Linked DNA regions of Homo sapiens: region 1 is linked to region 2. Evidence: fine-mapped expression QTL. A gene starts in region 2. The other region holds a variant in brackets. All regions are shown on one strand. Distances are between the middles of the regions.

Evidence for each region. PIP is the estimated chance that this variant, and not a neighbour inherited with it, causes the effect.
Region 1: its variant is the best candidate, but not a certain one, in a credible set for the expression of GALNT14 in whole blood (TOPMed, PIP 0.79).

The regions. Positions count from the first base shown.
Region 1 is chr2:31,203,268-31,208,636 of GRCh38, forward strand. It overlaps CAPN14 (calpain 14), which reads right to left. Exons shown (of 22, transcript NM_001145122.2): 2 at 1,956-2,232. The coding sequence starts at 2,180. Among named protein-coding and RNA genes, the nearest start is that of CAPN14, 12 kb to the right of the region's middle. The variant G/A (reference allele first, on the strand shown) is at 3,099.
Region 2 is chr2:31,135,582-31,140,950 of GRCh38, forward strand. It overlaps GALNT14 (polypeptide N-acetylgalactosaminyltransferase 14), which reads right to left and starts at 2,859. Exons shown (of 15, transcript NM_024572.4): 1 at 2,377-2,859. The coding sequence starts at 2,505.

The DNA of each region.
Region 1 (5,369 bases), 68 kb after region 2:
AGTGCTATCCCAGAAGATCTGGGATACAGAATTCTGTCCTTTGTATTTCTCATTCCTTCTTATAGCTCGTGTAAGTCAGAGCCCTGGAGAACTCTGTGTAGATATTGAGAAATAGCACTTATACCAAAAATGCCTTTTCTTAGAGTTTCTATTAAAAATGGAAACACTTTTATAGGAGGTATTTTCAGTTTTCCTAGATATCTTCTCTTTCGCTTTTTTCTCCCCTATTCCTCCTTCTTATTCCTGACCCCTAATATGATGTTCTTTTTGGCTTTTCCTGATGCGATGCAGCCTGTGATGGGGTGGTAGGGGGGTTGTCTCTGCTCCGTGGCAAGATTTATATTCTCAGTCTTTGCGCGGACACAGTTTCCCCAAGTCAGATGTAGAACAGAGTCTCTATGTCAGCAGTTCCCAGGATTTTCTGAGAGAAGTAGGATCTTGGCTGCCATGTAGTTTAGGAGGCTCACTGCAGAATTTTACACACAGTAGGGACTTCATAAGTCTGGGGCTGCAGGTATCGATGGTGATGGGTGAGTAGGGAAGAGAAAAGGAAAGTCTGTGGCACAGGCTTACACTTTACCCTGTTCACTAGCTGTGTTCCTGAAATCTTGTAGGTAAATCAAGTTTCAGGGAGATGGATTACATTTGAACACATTAAGAAGTTGCTTTTTAAAGGAATTGATGCATTTTATAGAGTGAAGAATACTTTTGTAAAGTGATTAATAGCTTCTTAATTTAAATGTTTCATGAACCTGTTTTGGGGGTAGGAGGTTGGAGAGATGTTAAAATTTATCTCTCTGGCAGATGGTATTGGCTGTGACTCAGGAAGCCTTGCCATCTCAGATGAAGCTAAACAGTACCTTGATATATTTTTGGCTATAGCTGTTCTGCATATTTCTGGGCAGGACTGAGGGAGGGCTACATCTTAGACCATTCTCAAAATCACCCTTGGTTTTTTCCATCTGGAAAGTGAGAATGTGGGAACATACCCATCCCTTCTCATGGAGATCAATGACAGTAAGACCTGGTGTGATATTGTGAAATATATATTTGGTCTTCATTTGCTCAGTTTTCTGACATTCAGCTCCTAAAACCTTGGGAACCTCTAGAGTGATAAGAGTGTCCTTCGTATGCTAATGATTGACTGGTGACTGGTGGTCCCTAGGTAGCTTCAGGATAGGGTCTGGTCATTGGAAAGACCAAGGCAGGATTAGAAGGTTGGGAGTTTCAGCCCCACCCCCTGATCACTGGGGAGGGGAGGGAAACTGAAGGTTAAATTGATCACCAAAGGCCAATGATGTAATCAATCATGCCTAGGTAATAAAGCCTCTATAAAAACCCAAAAGGACAGGGTGTAAGGAGCTCTGAATATCTGAACACACGGAGGTCCCTGGAGGGTGCCACAACCAGGGAGGGCATGAGAGCTCCACACCCCTTCCCCATGCCTTGCCCTGTGCATCTCTTCCACCTGGCTGTCATCTGCATCCTTTGTCATACCCTTTAAAATAAATCATTAAATGTAAGCGAAGCATTTCCCTGAGTCCTGTGAGCCTCTCTAGCAAATTAATCAAACCCAAGGAGGGGATCATGGGAATCACGGTCCTGATTTATGGCTGGTCGTGAGTACAGGTCACAACCTGGGACTTGTGATTGCCATCTGAAGTAGGGGCAGTTTTGTGGGATGAACACTCAACCTGTGAGATCTGACACCGTCTCTAGGTAGACAGTGTCGGAATTAAATTTCATTACAGAATACCCAGATGGTGGCCACCAGAGAATTGCTTGGCATGTGGGGAAAACCTCCTACACATCTGGTGTTAGAAGAGTGTGTTGTGTTGAGTGGAGAGGAGAGAGTAGGAAAAAGCCTGTTTTTTTCTCCCATATATCTTAGGCGCAGTATCTGAAAGCCCTAAACCCTGGGGAAGGAGGGTCTGGGCTGACACATTTTGCCTCACCGGGGGCCTCTTCCACTGCAGGCGGGGTGGCAGCTTCTGCAGCAGGGAGCCACTGCCGATGGAGCTCAGGGTGGCCGGGAAGCTGGTGTCTTCAAAGAGGCAGCCATTCCTCAGGCACTCTGCCAGCAGGGCCTCAAAGTCCTGTTGGGGTTGCTGTGGAGACGCCCTCCTAGAGTACCTTGGCGCCAGCTTCCATCTGCATCGGAAAGGTGGCCACAGAGACATGGCAGGTGGTGGGTACAGTCCAGTGAGTCTTCCTGAGGAGTCTCTGCTGCTCCTGAAATGGAGAGAGGACGGTCAGTTTCCTCACTTCCTCCTTGTGCTTTGCCATTGCCACAGAGACGAGGGGAAGGATGGAGAGAATGGGAGCGGAGAAGTCAGCTGGTGAGAAAGAGACAGAAGCAGGTGGTTCGATTTTGTCCCAGAGAGTGTGGGTCCTTGAGCACTCACTCAAGTGCTTGAGGACCTGGTGGGAGATCAGGGATCTTGTGGCAAAAGCCTACAGAAGGGAAAGTTCTCTCAAGCCTCAGGGCTGAGTCCTGGGCCCCTGACTGCACCAATGTCACGGGGGTCCCTTCTGCTTAGTGGGGAGGCAGGAGAAGAGAAGCAGGAAGCTGGAGCTCAGTCCCCTGGGCCGGAGGGTCCTGTGCCTGCCAAGGTAGTGGGGAGTAGTGGCTGCCTGCTCAGGCCTCCACCAGGCCTGCCAACTCCTGCCTCCCAGCTACAGACACACAGCATTCCTCCTGCTTCAATGTCCTCCTTATTCTTCCCTGCAAAACCTCCTCCTACATTATCTTTATTTTTTTTATTTATTTATTTTTTTTTTTTGAGACAGAGTCTCATTCTGTTGCCCAGGCTGGAGTGCAGTGGCGCGATCTCGGCTCAATGCAACCCCTGGCTTCCAGGTTCAAGCAATTCTCCTGCCTCAGTCTCCCGAGTAGCTGGGATTAGCAAGGCCGCAGGGGGTGCTGGGGGCCAGCAGCTCCCACGTGGAGGCCTCCCAAGGATGTCTCTCCCATCCCAGGAGCCCCCAGCTGCGCTCCGGGTCAAGGGTAAAACCCCAGGCTCCAGCACAGGGTGCGTGGGTCTCTCACAGAAGGCCCCCACGGGCGGTCACAGGCTCTGGCAGGGCTGCAGGTTGGC[G/A]TGGGCGAGCCGGCAGTGCATCAGATACAGACGCCCGCCACCACACCCAGCTAATTTTTGTATTTTTAGCAGAGATGGGGTTTCGCCATGTTGGCCAGGCTGGTCTCGAACTCCTGACCTCAAGTGATCTACCCGCCTTGGCCTCCCAAAGTGTTGAGAGATTACAGGCGTGAGCCACCATGCCCAGCCTACATTCTCTTTACAAAGAAATCCTTCCTTGAAGACTTTCTTGCTAATGTAAAAGGGGGACAAAAAAATCACACACACACATATTGTGCCAAATACCAACAGTTGCCAGTACGTGCCCATTCTCCCCTTTTCCTTGTTACCAGAATCCATTTTGATAACCCAGCTACAAAACTTGATTTCCTGGAGCTTCTTGCAGGACAGGTTGGCTACACAATATAGTTTTTCATTTTACAGTTGCAAAACCACTAATCTTATTAGCCTCCCCATTTTTCAGGTGTTACAACTGAAACCTGTCCATTCATTCACCAAAAATTTTACTGGGAACTTATCATTTGTCAGGCTTGAGGTAGGCACTGCTCACCAAAGACAGTCCCTGCCCTCATGGCTCTTACAGTTTAGAGGGTGGGAGAGCGAGAAGGGTTAAATGATCTTCCTGGTGCTATACAGGGAGATTTTATAAGGGCTGTATCCAGAACCCAGAGCCCTGACTCCCATAACAATGTTCAGCTCTCAGTGCTACAAACTGCCTATTACACCCCGCACAGTGTTTGGGACAGAATGTACATGCCCTAAAAGTAACTCGCAAATGTGCTTATACTGAGTGTGACTTCTCCCTCATGGCTGTAGGAGTGACCTGGGGTCCTCTCCATTTGTCAAGGTCCTGCCCATCCCCCAAAGTCTAACTTGAGTCCTTTCCCCAGGAAGCCCTCCTTGAGTGCCTGGCATTCGCTGAGATCCCCTCATTCTGTCTATGGACCCATTGTCTGCCCCATTGGGCACCTACTGTCTTGGTGCTTCTCAAATTATCACTAGTGAAGGGCCTATGTTCTTTTATTTCCGATTTGTCATAGAAATTTAATGAAAATGAATAAATACAAACATAACATTTTAAAAGATACATAAAGTCAAGTCCCCCTTTAAGATTTTTTCAGGTCAGGTGCAAGGGCTCACATCTGTAATCCCAGCACTTTGGGAAGCCAAGGTGGGCAAATCACTTGAGCCCAGAAGTTCGATACCAGCTGGGGCAACATGGCAAAACTTCGTCTACATAAAAATACAAAAATTAGCTAGGCATGGTGATGTATGACTGTAATCTTAGCTACTTGGGAGGCTGAGACAGGAGGATCACTTGAGCCGGGAGGTAGAGTTTGCAGTGAACAGAGATGGCGGCACTGCACTCCAGCCTGGGAAGCAGAGCAAGACTCTGTCTCAAAAAAGAAGTTAGATTCAACAAAAATTAAATTAAATTTAAATTATTTGATCAATTGCTATAAAAGTTTCTAAACACTTGCTCTCAGTTTTGTAGGTAGCTCATCAAGCACTGCCAGTGACCAGTTGGTGGAGTGGCCCCACTGTGGTTCTGCTCTGAGTGATGTATGCACAGAAGCCTCTTCTGCCTAATGGCTTTTGAATCCTCTGCAGGATTAGCACTGCTGGAATGTTGTTTGTCTCACACCCTTACCTCTGAGAGCTGAGGGCAGTCGATTCCTGGCTATTCTTATTTGTCACGGGTGCCTGTGTACTTCCTGGGGGAAGACCCAGCCCTCTTCTAACCCAGGTCACAGAAACTCAAAAGCTGTTACTCAGGTCTTTTATTTTTTTGACTCCAAAAAAAAACTCCAAAAAAAAACTGGAGTTTTTTTCCCTAATGTGGATGAGTAGGCAAAGCTTCCCCCAGGCTTACCCCATTTTCTTCCCAGGAAGTTTCTTCTACCACCTGCACATTTATAAACAAACTTGAGGCCTCACAAAGGCAAGGTCTCCCTTTTTGCCCCTTCAAGCCTTTACAACAATCTTTATTGCTTGTCCTGTGAAAAATGATAGAGGGTCCCTTGGCTTCAGAACCTCCCTCAGGCTCATGCCCTCCTTACCAAGTGCTGGGTCATACCTGGATTCCTCTTCAAGCCTGCAAATACTACATCTTGTGACAAGCACAGTACATCATGGGCTCAGAAGACAAAACACCCATCACAGGTTCCTCTCACCCTCCAAAGTTTAGAATGAGGCCACATGTGTGCGTGCACACACATACACACACAATCTTATTTGTAAATAAGTATTCCTAAGTCACCTTAGGGAGAA
Region 2 (5,369 bases):
TGGTTCTAGAAGGATACAGAAAATGAGGAAAAGAAGGAACAAGATGTTAAGACAAAGAGCAACTGGTTCAAAACTAGAAAACCTCCTCTTTTGTGACTGCACAGTACAATGTCCTGACTTCTGCTACTAAACCACTCCCCACCTTAAAGTACCACTCATTTGTTGGTAATTCTGCCTCATCCTGCAACTTATGTGGCCCCCCACCCCCATGCCAAAGGACAGGGACACAGCGTGCTCATCATAGCAGCCCCCAAACCCAGCACAGAGCCTGGCATACAGCTGCCTGTGATAGATGTGTGCTGAGCACACGCCAGGATAAGAAGAGGCAGGAGAGGAGGAGGGACAAAGAGTGCACAAAGAAAGAAACAGGTCTCTTGTCCCAGATCCCTGGTGTAAACTAAGAATAAGCAAGCTTAAGGTAATGAGGGTCGAAGCAAAACAGAGAAAGTTCATGTCCCTGCAGGTATCATTAACTACATCACAGGGAGCAGAACCACCTAGGGAAAAAGAAGAAAAGCTCTCCAGATCTATGGGCAGGGGCTGAGTGAGAAAAGTGATCTGGTGCTATTAAAGGTGGTTTGAAGTCATCAATCTGGCCTCGCCACCTCACTGCCTGACCCTCTCCAAGAGTCCTCACACCCACAAGATTCTACCCCACCCAGCCCCTACACACCTCCCTAAACTTTATCCCTCCAACCTCCACATACTTTGTGCTCAAATTATGCCAAACTCACACAACGTGCTGTGTCATTCCTCTGAGCCTGTTTCATGCAGTTAACCTCTACCTGGAATGCCCTTTCTACCTACTGACAAACCTGTTTATCCTTCTCAGCTCAGCTCTGTTATGTCCTCCTCCTCCAGGGAGACCTCAGGCTCCCATGACACCCAGTGCACTGAACCCTCTTAGCCCTATGCACACCTCACATCCTGGTCCAATGATGAGTGAACTCCTCTCCCCCCAGAGAGTAAATTCTATCTCTCTCTACCCATAGCACCTAACACACTGCCTGAGCACACAATAGGTGCTAAATAAATGCTTGTTGAAATCGACAAAGCATTGGCAAGATTCCAGAACATAAGTGCTAGAAGACTTGGTTAAAAAGGGGAAACCGAGAGGCAACTTGATATACTGGAAACCCTGAGCGTGGAGGCTGGAGTTCAAACCAGTAGAACGACTTAAGGTACGTGACTTAAAGACCCTGAACCTGTTTTCCTGATCTATGAAACAAGCATATTACCACCCAACTCCTACAACTACTTATGAGGAAGGCACCTACTATGCACCTGGCACACAGTAGGCCCTCTGTACTGTACTTAACTGGTGAGACGCCACCTCCCGCCCACATCTTCCTGTTTTTCAGTCTCCCATTTCCGACCATAAGCTCCTCCAAGGCTTTTGCCCAGACCCCTAGACGACTGTTCTGGACCCAGTTTATAAAGACTGCCTGGCTGGCCAGGAAATCCCCCAGAGGCCTCCTTCCGTGTCCCCGGGCCAAATCTGTGAAGAGAAAACGGAAGGCTACCATGTCACGAAAAACTATGATCAAATAAATTATTATGCCTTTTCTCCTATTGATCTGCCTTTTGTCAACTGATTTTCAGTGAACCTTCGGAGAGCCATGGGGAAGTTTTCCCTTTCCCCCTACAGGGCTCTGAATCTGAAGGTAAGAGTGAGCCTATAGGGGGAACCTTCTGGCTCCCTCACAGGAACTGACTGAGCAGGAGTTGGAAAAGCCACTTGGATTCCCATTTCCTCAACTCCCCGCCAATACCAAGGCGTCTGTTTTTACAGGCTCTTTCGTGGTGTTCTGGGCACATTCAACTTCCAATGCAGCTGAGAGGGTCGGGAACAGTTAGAGAACAGGGGTGGCAGCCGCCCGGGAGGCTGCAAGGCGCTCGCCCGCAACGCACAGGCGCGCGCGGCGCACCCGGCCTCCGGCCTCCCCAGGTCGGGCCTGGCAGCTGCGGGAAGGAGGTCAGCGCAGCCGCCACACTTCGCCCGGGCGCTGGCCCGACCCGACCGCCGGCGACTCTCTGGCAGCGCCCGGAGACCGCCAGCCCCTGGGCCGCCCGTCCGCAGAGCCCCCTCCGCCCCGGGACCCTCGCGCGCAGCTCAAGTTGGGAGCCCCGCTCCGCAGGCGAGCGCGCGCCCACCACCCACACCCACTGCCACTCATGCACACCGCGGGTCCGGAGATGCCCCCGAGCGTTTTAAAATCCAGAAACATCACATGGTAGCCACATCCGGCGGCTGTTACCTGCTCGCAGCACCCAGACCCTCGCCCTGGTTTCCCGGGAGCCCGCAAACCCGGCACGCGGGCTGCGCGCCCTCCCGCAAGCCACCGCTCAGCGCCAGCGCGCCGGCAAGCCGCCTACCTTAGGGGTCTGCACTTCAGGTCCCGTCGGCACCTCCAACTTCCTCTTGGTTACCCAGAAGAACAGCAGCACCGTGATCCAGAGCACCCCGAAGACTGGCAGAACCAGCCGACGAGTCAGGCGCCGCATGGTCCCCTTTGCCGCTTCCTCTCCGCGGCGCTACGTCCCGGGGGCACCCCCCGGCGGTCAGGGTTGGCGGGGCAGGAGTCCTGGCGAGCGCCTCGCTCTGGGGAGCTCTAGACCCAGGATCCGGTTGGAGGGGCGGCAGGATCCTGCAAGGCGCCCTTCCCGCTTCGAAGAGAAGCGAGCCTGGGTGGGGGGTGCAGGGCGACCCGAAACGTGGCAGGGAAGGACCGAGGGCAGCCAAGCTGGACGCCCGCTCCAGCGGGAGAAGCGCGGTGGCTGCCGAGATGTTCCCCACGCCGCCACCGCGGCTGCCGCCGCCGCCGCCGCCGCCTTGCCCGCTGCCGCCGATAGGGAAACTGACTCGAGCAGCGAGAGGGAGGAATCCGAGGCTGTGCCAAGCACCCCGGGAGGAGCACGAGGGCGGAGGGAGTGAGCGGGGAGGGCGGGCCCGACAGACAGGCCGACTCGGAGCGAGCCCAGGTGGGAGTGAGCGGGGCTCTGAGAGGGGGCGCTACCGCCGCCCGCCGACCGAAACGCTCGGTGCTGTTGCGGGGCCGCCAGCGCCAAGCCCTGGGCGCAGCTCCCAGACCATCGTGGGTTGGGGCAAGGCGGGGCGGGGCGGGAGCGGTGCACTCGGGATGCCCGCCACCCCCAGCTGCCAGCTGGGACCCAAGGGCCGGCCCTCGCCAGGCGGCGCTGTGCCTGGGAGGACTTTCCCGCTCATCGCGGGGGCTGCACGTGGCGCTGAAGCCGGGGTCCCACCCCCAATGTGCTCGTCCTACCACAGCCAAGGCTGGGATTCCAGGGCGCCGGCAGGGCTGCTGCCCCAAACCCGCGGTTCACTTGCCTGGCTACTGAGGGCCAAGGCCGCGGTCAGCCAACTCCCCAGGGTGTTTCTATGCCTGCCTGCAGGTGCCTGGTAACTTTTTCTGCTTAACGGAAGGAAAGCTGAGCTGGTCTAATTTTAACTTTAAAGATATCCTTTAAAAAATTAAGGCGCAATTATCTCCCATAAAGGTTTTCTCTCCCTGTAAGCATCAGGGCTTTGTGCTTGCAAGAAAAGAGGTCCAAAGTTGGAACAACCACTTGGGATTCTTGGAAAGTGACCCTGGGCAGGAGGATACTGGGTGCAGAGGGTGATCTTTCAAAAGCCCCTTTTCCCAAGGGCCTTTGGGAATTGTATCCCCCTCCCACTTGCAGATTAAAACCGCTTGGATCTAGAAGCAAAGCAAATTCTAACTCCAATTCCCATGTAGGCTCAAGTAGGCTGGAATCACGGCCAGATCACTGACCAGAGAGTACTGACCTAGCTGTCACACTCACTGTGTGAGTCTTGGGTAAGTCATTTACCTTCTCCCAGTCTTCGATTCCTCATCTGTAAAATGGAGGGAAAATACCTCCTCTGACAAGCAAATGAGTAGTGGTGAAAGCTGAATGCAAGGTGCTGGTGTTATCTGACCACTCAAAGTGGGGAAACCTTGCTCTGTCTGGGGAGCAGAGGCAGCGGGAACCATGCCATTTTTGTTGGAGGGTTGCTTGCTTCATCGAGTTTCTTGGGGAGGTGAGAACGATGCACCCACTGTGGCAGCCACCATTCTCCCTGCCCCTCTCTCCCCATAAAGCTCAGTGTAGGGCAAGCTCCCATACCTCCGCACAGGTGAGACAGCTGTAAATCAGGGCTCTGGAATTCCTTCTTCAATAAGATGTCTCCCCAAAGACATGTACTGAGAAATGGAGGCGTCTACTCAAAGCCTCCTGTTTTTGGTACCTTATCTTTCAGCCACAGGGAAGTCCTGCCTCAACCTCAGAGAGTTCTTGACTGGACTGTAGATAAGATGTTTGGGGTTGGGAACCGCAGTTGAAATTAAACAGCCCAGAAAAGGTGAGCACTGTTGCCAGCCCTTTCAAGATCTACCTGCGCTCTTAGACCATCACACAGAACCCCAGGGTTGATCTAGCATTTGCCTTTATCAGAACTCTGAACACTGAAAGGTGGGAGTAGGCTCCCCAGCCAATGCTTTGTCCCAGCAAAGGCCCAGGTAGATGATCATCATGGGAGGGGTAGGGGGAGCAGCAAGAGAACTCACCTCTGCAGCATCCCAAGCACCTTGGACCTCTTTCAGGAGCCTCACCCGGGACCTGCAGTTTCGGGCCTGCAAAGCGTTCTGCTGCAGGCTCTGCAGGGGACCCCCAGGCAAGCTGCTGAGCTGCTGTTGGCTCCAGGCAGAAGCTGCAGCACAGGAGTCCATTGCTCAGCGCTTTGTAATGCCGCTTCTGAGTAACAGATGGCAGACAGTTACACAAGAACACCGCCAAGCTTTTGAGATGGTGCAGCACCACCACGCTGCTCACCACACTGCTGAGATGCTGAGGTGCCTCATTCTGACTGTTTGGCATATGGGGAAACTGAGGCCCTGGGGTGAAGGCAGCTCCGTGCAGGGACTGCAATGTCTCAGAGAGTGGGAATTTCCTTCCAGGAATGATTTTCTTCTCAAATCATTATTTTGTCCTCTACTCAAGTGAGGAAGATTTCCTGGGCCTATGGAAGCTGTCAAGGGAATCCAGTTTTGCTAGGTGTCATTAGCTGATCCATCCAGAGATCATATCAGATATCAGTTTGGGTTGTCAAACCAGTAAATATCATTAGGACTGAAGTAGATTTCAAGTGGGACTTCAAACATCTGGAAGTGAAGTGAGTGTCCATGCGGGGCCTAGTTCTGTAGGTCTCTCCAGGAACCCAGTCTATCCAGGGGTCCCCCATGCTCAGGAATATATTTGAAACGCTTTAATAACCAGCTTTAAGCCTGGGCAACATAGCGAGAGCTTGTCTCTAAACAACAACAACAACAACAAAATAGCCAGGCGAA